Homo sapiens: one gene and its partner. The protein of the gene in region 1 interacts with the protein of each later gene in a pairwise test. Each region holds a gene or a part of one and is shown in the gene's direction. Other genes may lie near its edges. The genes, in order: PISD and DHX29.

Region 1 (3,819 bases):
AATAGTACCTAGGAAGTAGCTTCTCGTGCATGACTTCCATCAGAAATATTTATGGCATCCCTACCACTGCAAACCACACTGTCAACGGACCATAGAGAAGGGAGAAGAGAGAAGGGAAGGGGAGCAAATGAAGAAATTAAAAACATTTGAAATAGGCCTTGTCTTCAAGGAACTTTACTATATACTTGTAATACATGGTGGAATACGGGATAAAGCCTTCAAGAGGTCTGTCCGTTCTGTTTTAGGAGAACTTTCACAGCTTTAGAAAGCAAGGGAGACATAAGGACTATAGGCAAAATGTTACTACTAGGGGTGATGTTAAAAATGTCTTAGGCCTGGGCGTGGTGTCTCATGCCTGTAATCCCAGCATTTTGGGAGGCTAAGGCGGGTGGATTGCATGAGCTCAGGAGTTCAAGACCAGCCTGGGCAACATGGCAAAAACCCATCTGTACAAAAAACACAAAAATTAGCTGGTCATAGTGGTGCATACATGTAGTCCCAGCCACCTGGGAGGCTGAGGTAGGAGGATTGCCTGAGCCCAGGAGGTTGAGGCTGCAGTGAGCCAAGATCATGCCACTGCACTCCAGCCTGGGCAACAGAGTGAGACCCTGTCTCAAAAAAAAAAAAAAAAGAAAAAGAAAAAATAGTGCAACTGGCCAGGTGTGGTGGCTTATGTCTGTAATCTCAACACTTTGGGAGGCTGAGGCAGGAGAATTGCTTGAGCCCAAGAGTTCGAGACCAACCTGAGCAACATAGTGAGACCTCCTCTCCGCAAAAAATGGCTGGGTGCACATCTGTGGTCCCAGCTACTTGGGAAGCTAAGGTGGGAGGTTCACTTGTGCCCAGGAGGTCGAGGCTGCAGTGAGCTGTGATTTCACCACTGCATTCCAGCCTGGGTGACAGAGTGAGACCCTGTCTCAAAAAACAAACAAACAAACAAACAAACTTATAACCAGGATGCCATGGAGACAGACTAGTGAGAGTGAATGCTGGTCATAGATGATTGATATGACCATCTCAGTGTATGTCAGCTGAATATCAACTCTTAATAATAACAGTCTAACTAGGTGCCAGGCCCTGAGCTAAGGTTTTGCATGATTGTCTTCTAATGAGGTGAGTTTTGTTTTTGCAGGTGGAGAAACTGAGGCTTAAGATTAGTTAAGAAATTTCCTAAGGTCACACAGCTGCTAAGAAGTGGCAGCGCTGAGATTTGAGTTGCACAGGCAGACTGGAGTGCTCAATTGTGGGCTTTAATTGCCTACTTGAAGGATGCGATGTAGAATGCATGTAGAAGAGACATCTGTTTGAACCCATCCATTCATCTTTCTGGGGCATACTGTCACTATTGAGATTGAAGGCCAGTGAGAACACAGATAAACCCCGTGTTCATCGAGGTATACATACAGTAAACAAATAACTGAATACATGCAGAATCCATTCATTTTGTGTAATAAGAAATGCCATGAAGAAAAAGAAAGCAAGATAATTAAGAAGTTAGTGCTCAACAGAAAGACAAACTTTGCATGTTCTCACTTATTTGTGGGAGCTGTAAATTAAAACGGTTGAACTCATGGAGATAGTAGAAGGATGGTTACCAGAAGCTGGAAAGGGTAGTGGGGGGATGGGAAGAAATGGGGATGGTTAATGGGTATCAAAAAAATAAAATGGGCTGGGTGCAGTGGCTCACGCCTGTAATCCCAGCACTTTGGAGGCCCAGGCGGGTGGATCACCTGAGGTCAGGAGTTCAACACCAGCGTGGCCAACAAACCCTGTCACTACTAAAACTACAAAAAAAAATTAGCCGGGTGTGGTGGTGTGCTCCTGTAATCCCAGCTACTCAGGAGGCTGAGGTAGGAGAATTCCTTGAACCTGGGAGTCAGAGGTTGCAGTGAGCTGAGATTGCGCCATTGCACTCCAGCCTGGGCAACAGAGCAAGATGCCATCTCAAAAAAATATATAAAATAAAATGAATAAGACCTAGTGTTTGCTAGCACAACAGGGTGACTATTGTCAAAAATAATTTAAAATTATTACATTTAAAAATAACTAAAAGGCTGGGTGCGGTGGCTCACGCCTGTAATCCCAGCACTTTGGGAGGCTGAGGCGGGTGGATCACGAGGTCAGGAGTTCAAGATCAGTCTGGCCAAGAAGGTGAAACCCCATCTCTACTAAAAATACAAAAAATTAGCCAGGCATGGTGGTGGGTGCCTGTAATCCCAGCTACTCGGGAGGCTGAGGCAGAGAATTGCTTGAACCCAGGAGGCGGAGGTTGCGGTGAGCTGAGATCATGCCACTGCACTCCAGCCTGGGCGACAGAGCAAAACTCCATCTCAAAAAAACAAAACAAAACACTAAAAGAGTATAACTGGATTGTTTGTAACACAAAGCTTAAATGCTTGAGGGGATAGATATCCCATTTACCTAATGTGATTATTCCATATTGCGTGCCTGTATCAAACTAGCTCATGTAACACATAGATATATATGCCTACTACATACCCAGAAAAATTTTTTTTAAAAATTAAGAAGTTAGTGTTCAAGAGGGCCAACTCTTGGGCATACAGTGCTCAGGAAAAACTGCACTGAGGAGGTAACATTTGAGCAGAGAACTAAATGATGTGGGAGTGAGCCACATAGGAGAGGGGTGTGCCCAGCATAGCAAACAGCAAATGGAGGAGTGTGGAAAGGGGCACATGTGGTGTGGACAAGGAGCGGCAAGAGGAGTGAGTGAGGAGGAAGAGAGGGAAAGTAGCTAGAGATCTGAGAGGCTGACAAGATGTGGGATCTTGTCTTTCTGTTTTGTTTATTTATTTATTTATTTATTTATTTATTTATTTTTGAGACGCAGTCTTGCTCTGTCACCCAGGCTGGAGTGCAGTGTGCGATCTCGGCTCCCTGCAACCTCCGTCTCCCAGATTCAAGCAATTCTTCTGCCTCAGCGTCCTGAGTAGCTGGGACTATAGGCACCGACCACCACACCTGGCTAATTTTTGTATTTTTAGTAGAGATGGAGTTTCACCATGTTGGTCAGGCCGGTCTCGAACTCCTGACCTCGTGATCTGCCCACCTTGGCCTTCCAACGTGCTGGGAGTTCTCATAGGCGTCAGCCACCATGCCCGGCCTTTATTTTTTTGTTTTTTTCAGACAGAGTCTCGCTCTGTCATGCCCAGGCTGGAGTGCAGTGGTGTGATCTTGGCTCATTGCAACCTCCACCTCCTGGGTTCAAGCAATTCTCCTGCCTCAGTCTCCCAAGTAGCTGGGATTATAGGCCACCACCATCACACCCGTCTAATTTTTTGTATTTTTAGTAGAGACGGGGTTTCACCATATTGGCTGGCTAGTTTTTTGTATTTTTAGTGGAGACGGGGTTTTACCATATTGGCGAGGCTGGTCTCAAACTCCCGACCTCAGGTGATCCACCTGCCTCAGCCTCTCAAAGTGCTGAGATTACAGGCGTGAGCCACTGAGCCTGGCCAGTGGTAGTTTTCATTGCCTTGCCAGTGGATTGAATGTGGATGATGAGAAAGAAAGGACTTAAAAATGAGTCCTGGGCTGGGTGCAGTGGCTCATGCCTGTAATCCCAACACTTTCGGAGGCCAAGGTGGGTGGATCACTTGAGGTCAGGAGTTCGAGCCCAGCCTGGCCAACATGGCGAAACCCTGTCTCTACTAAAAAAACACAAAAATTAGCTGGGTGTGGTGGCTTGTGCCTGTAATCCCAGCTACTTGGGAGGCTGAGGCAGAAGAACTGCTTGAACCCAGGAGGCGGAGGTTGCAGTGAGTTGAGATCACGCCACTGAACTCCAGCCTGGGTGACGGA
Region 2 (3,819 bases), on another chromosome or scaffold:
GATTGAATGCAGAAGCTAGATGTTACGAACTGAATGTTTGTGTCCTCAAAAAATTAGTATGTTGAGACCCTTACCCCCAGTGTGGCTATATTTGGAGATAAGGGCTCTAAGGAAGTACATAAGGTTAAATGAGATCACAGGGATGGGGCCCTGATCCAACAGGATTAGTGTCCTTATAAAATGAGATACCCAAGAGAGCTCAGTTTCTCTGAGTAAGCACAGAGAAAAAAGCCATGTGAACATATAGCAAGATGATGGCCACCTACATGCCAAGAGAAGAGGCCTCAGAATGAAACCTCCCTTGCTGGTACCCTAATCTTGGACTTCCCAACCTCCAGAACTATGAGAAATAAATTTCTGATGGTGAAGCCATCCAGCAGTCTGTGGTATTTTGTTGTGGCAGTCTGAGCAGACTAAGATACCAGATATTAAAGAGATTTGCAAAAACGGATATTATTTTTTGTCTTGAAAAATATAGTCACATTTCATCTTAAGCATCATTTATATTAATGGAACAGGTTTATTTTTATTATTTTGTTGAGGTCCTTTTGTTTTTTTGAGACAGAGTCTCGCTCTGTCTCCCAGGCCAGAGTGCAGTGGTGCAGTCTCGGCTCACTGCAACCTCTGCCTCCTGGGTTAAAGCAGTTCTCCTGCCTCAGCTTCCCAAGTAGCTGGGATTACAGGCATGCATCACCAGGCCCAGCTAATTTTTGTATTTTTACTAGAAATGGGGTTTTGCCATATTGGCCAGGCTGGTCTCAAACTCCTGACCTCATGTGATCTGCCCGCCTCCGCGTCCCAAGTGCTGGGATTACAGGCATGAGCCACCACACCTGGCCTATTATTATTATTATTAGAGACAGGGTCTCACTCTGTTGCCCAGGCTGGAGTGCAGTGTTGCAGTCACAGCTCACTGTAGCTACTACTGCAGCCTTGAACTCCTGGGTTCAAGCAGTTTTCCTGCCTCAGCCTCTTGAGTACCTGGGACTTCAGACATGTGCTACCACAGCTGGATAATTTTTGTAGAGGCAAAGTCTCACTATATTGCCCAGACTGCTCTCAAACTCCTGGGCTCAAGAGATCCTCCTACCTCAGCCTCCCAAAGTGCTGGGATTACAGGCATGAGCCACTGCGCCTGGCCAGATTTATTATTTTTGGTGAATGAATGTTTTAAAATTTCCCTTTTAATTTATAATATACTAAGTATCAATAGACATAACCCACATAAACAAAAACTATTTGGATCCTCAGTAATTTTTAAGAGAGTAAGGGGTCATGAGACCAAAAGTTTGAAAATAATGTGTGTTGTTTCCTGGTTACTCATTGTTAAAGGACTGAGACTAGACAGCGTTTCTGTTCACTGGAACAGACTTGGCAACTGTAGTGGGTTGAGTGAGTAGTGTCCCCCCAAATATTCATGTCCACCTGGAACCTCAGAATGTGACCTTGTTTGGAAATAAGCTCTACAGATCTGTGGATCTTGAGATGAAATTATACTAGATTTAGGGTGATTCCTAAATCCAATAATGAATGTCAAGAGAAAGGAGAGGGACATTTGGACACAGAGAAAGGGAAGAAGGCCGTGTGAATGAGGAGGCAGAGACTGGTGTTATGCTGCCACCAGAAGCTGGAAGGGGGAAGGAACGATTCTTACCTAGAGCCTTCAGAGAGAGCATGGTCCTGCTCACACCATGATTTTGGAGTTCTAGCTTCCAGAATTGTGAGAGAATAAATTTCTGCTGTATTCAGCCATCAAGTTTGTGGTAATTTGTTATGGCAGCCCTAGGAAACTATAGCAACCCTGGACTTGAGTTCAAGGAGAAAAGATGATAGGAACTCCCACCTCCCTTTTCACTTAGCATACCACCTTCAAGAAAGAGTGCTTTCTCTTTAAAATTGTCCATCTACTCTGCCAACAATCATATCTTAGAAGTTTTGCCTCAGCTAAGTGCCAGGAGAAAAGCATCTGACTAAAAGATATGAGGATAAAGATAGATTTAACCTAAAAGATATGTAGGCATTTGCATTTTATGAGAAACTGGTTAACATGGAGTAATGCTAATTGGTAAAATGTTGAAAATTTAGAGAGGATATTGCTAGCTACTAGATTGAGTTATTTGGTGAAGTATTGGGGAAAAAAGCTGAAATCAAATATTTAATATTTAGCATTCTTTTTTTTTTTTTTTTTTTTTTTGAGACGGAGTCTCGCTCTGTCGCCCAGGCCGGACTGCGGACTGCAGTGGCGCAATCTCGGCTCACTGCAAGCTCCGCTTCCCGGGTTCACGCCATTCTCCTGCCTCAGCCTCCCGAGTAGCTGGGACTACAGGCGCCCGCCACCGCGCCCGGCTAATTTTTTGTATTTTTAGTAGAGACGGGGTTTCACCTTGTTAGCCAGGATGGTCTCGATCTCCTGACCTCATGATCCACCCGCCTCGGCCTCCCAAAGTGCTGGGATTACAGGCGTGAGCCACCGCGCCCGGCCTAATATTTAGCATTCTTTAGAGGAAAATTAAAATAATGTAATAGATATTAATCATTAAATTGCCTTGTCTATTTGTATTTACAGGTCCAAAAATTTATAGTTTTAATTCTACAAATGATTCTAGTGGTCCTGCAAATCTGGATAAATCTATTTTGAAAGTAAGTAACAAAGGTTTTGAGTCATTTCAAGAAATGTTTCCCCCTTTTTTCCCCCAAAAAAGATGTATCCTTAAATGTAAGAAAATGATGGGGTGTTTTAAATTTTTGTAAATAGTACTCTAAGAGCTAATCTCTACTAAAAATAAGTAAATCATACACATATGTTGAGAGACAGTAAGAAATGAAGGAAGGCCTGGTTAAGATCTAAACTTCTTAAGCATGGCATATACATTTTTTCAGGTCTGTCTTAGAATACCGTTTCACCCTCCTCTCTGCTACTCTGATCTCTACTTAATATTTTAGTTCATGGGACATCTCATGAATATCTCATTTGTTCTTCTAAATCCGTGATTTTACAACTTCTAGCTTTTACCCATGTACTCTCTGCGTAGAGTGCCCTTATTTCCCCTTTTTATTTGTCACCTCTGTGACCTCTATGAAGTCCTTTATCAACCGCCAAGTTGATTTTCTTGGTGGTTCTACTATTACTTGATATATCTTTTTTGAGAATTGCCATGCTGGGTTATAATTTGTCTCTTTATATATATTTTCTGGGCTAGACTGTGAATTTCTGAATTATATTTTTGTGCTTAGTTTATAGTAGGCATTTAGTTAAAAAGTAACAAAGGGAAGATATTTTTGTAAGTAGATGCTTGTGTACTCTTAGGTCAAAAATAACAAAAGAACAGAAAATAAAATGGCTAGTAGGAAAAAGTAGGAATCAAAGTCTAGAAGCCAAAAGAATTTGTGTAGCTTATTACGACATATTTAGTTTTCAGTTTTACTTGTTATACCCGTTTTTAGTATAGTGTTCATTCTTTTAGGTTGTGTGCTTGCAGTGGTTTACATTAAATCCCTCCAAGAATTCTGATTCAGTATGTTTGGGATAGAACTTAGGAATCTTTGTGACAGCAACCCAAGGGTGGTCCAAGGACAATGTCTCGTGACATTGCCCTCAAGAGGCTTTTTCTTGCCATGTGTTATCTTGTTGCTTTTTTCATATCACATTTTTTCTTAAAGAAATGATAGGAATGTGGTCAAATGGGTGGTAGTCCAAAAAATGATAATTACTGTATCTGATTTTAGCTGAAATTTTGGGCTTGGTTGGCAGGAATATAGAAAACTGTATGATTGGCTTTTAATTTTTTAATAATTTAGCTTCTAAATGATATGACCTTT

What was found.
Region 2: the proteins of PISD (region 1) and DHX29 interact in a two-hybrid assay, tested with the Homo sapiens proteins (one large-scale study listed by BioGRID and IntAct).

The regions. Positions count from the first base shown.
Region 1 is NC_000022.11:31,655,668-31,659,486, reverse strand, and holds part of PISD (phosphatidylserine decarboxylase proenzyme, mitochondrial), read left to right. Parts: intron 1-3,819. UniProt on the Homo sapiens protein: Catalyzes the formation of phosphatidylethanolamine (PtdEtn) from phosphatidylserine (PtdSer). Plays a central role in phospholipid metabolism and in the interorganelle trafficking of phosphatidylserine.
Region 2 is NC_000005.10:55,297,412-55,301,230, reverse strand, and holds part of DHX29 (ATP-dependent RNA helicase DHX29), read left to right. Parts: intron 1-2,566; coding exon 2,567-2,640; intron 2,641-3,819. UniProt on the Homo sapiens protein: ATP-binding RNA helicase involved in translation initiation. Part of the 43S pre-initiation complex that is required for efficient initiation on mRNAs of higher eukaryotes with structured 5'-UTRs by promoting efficient NTPase-dependent 48S complex formation.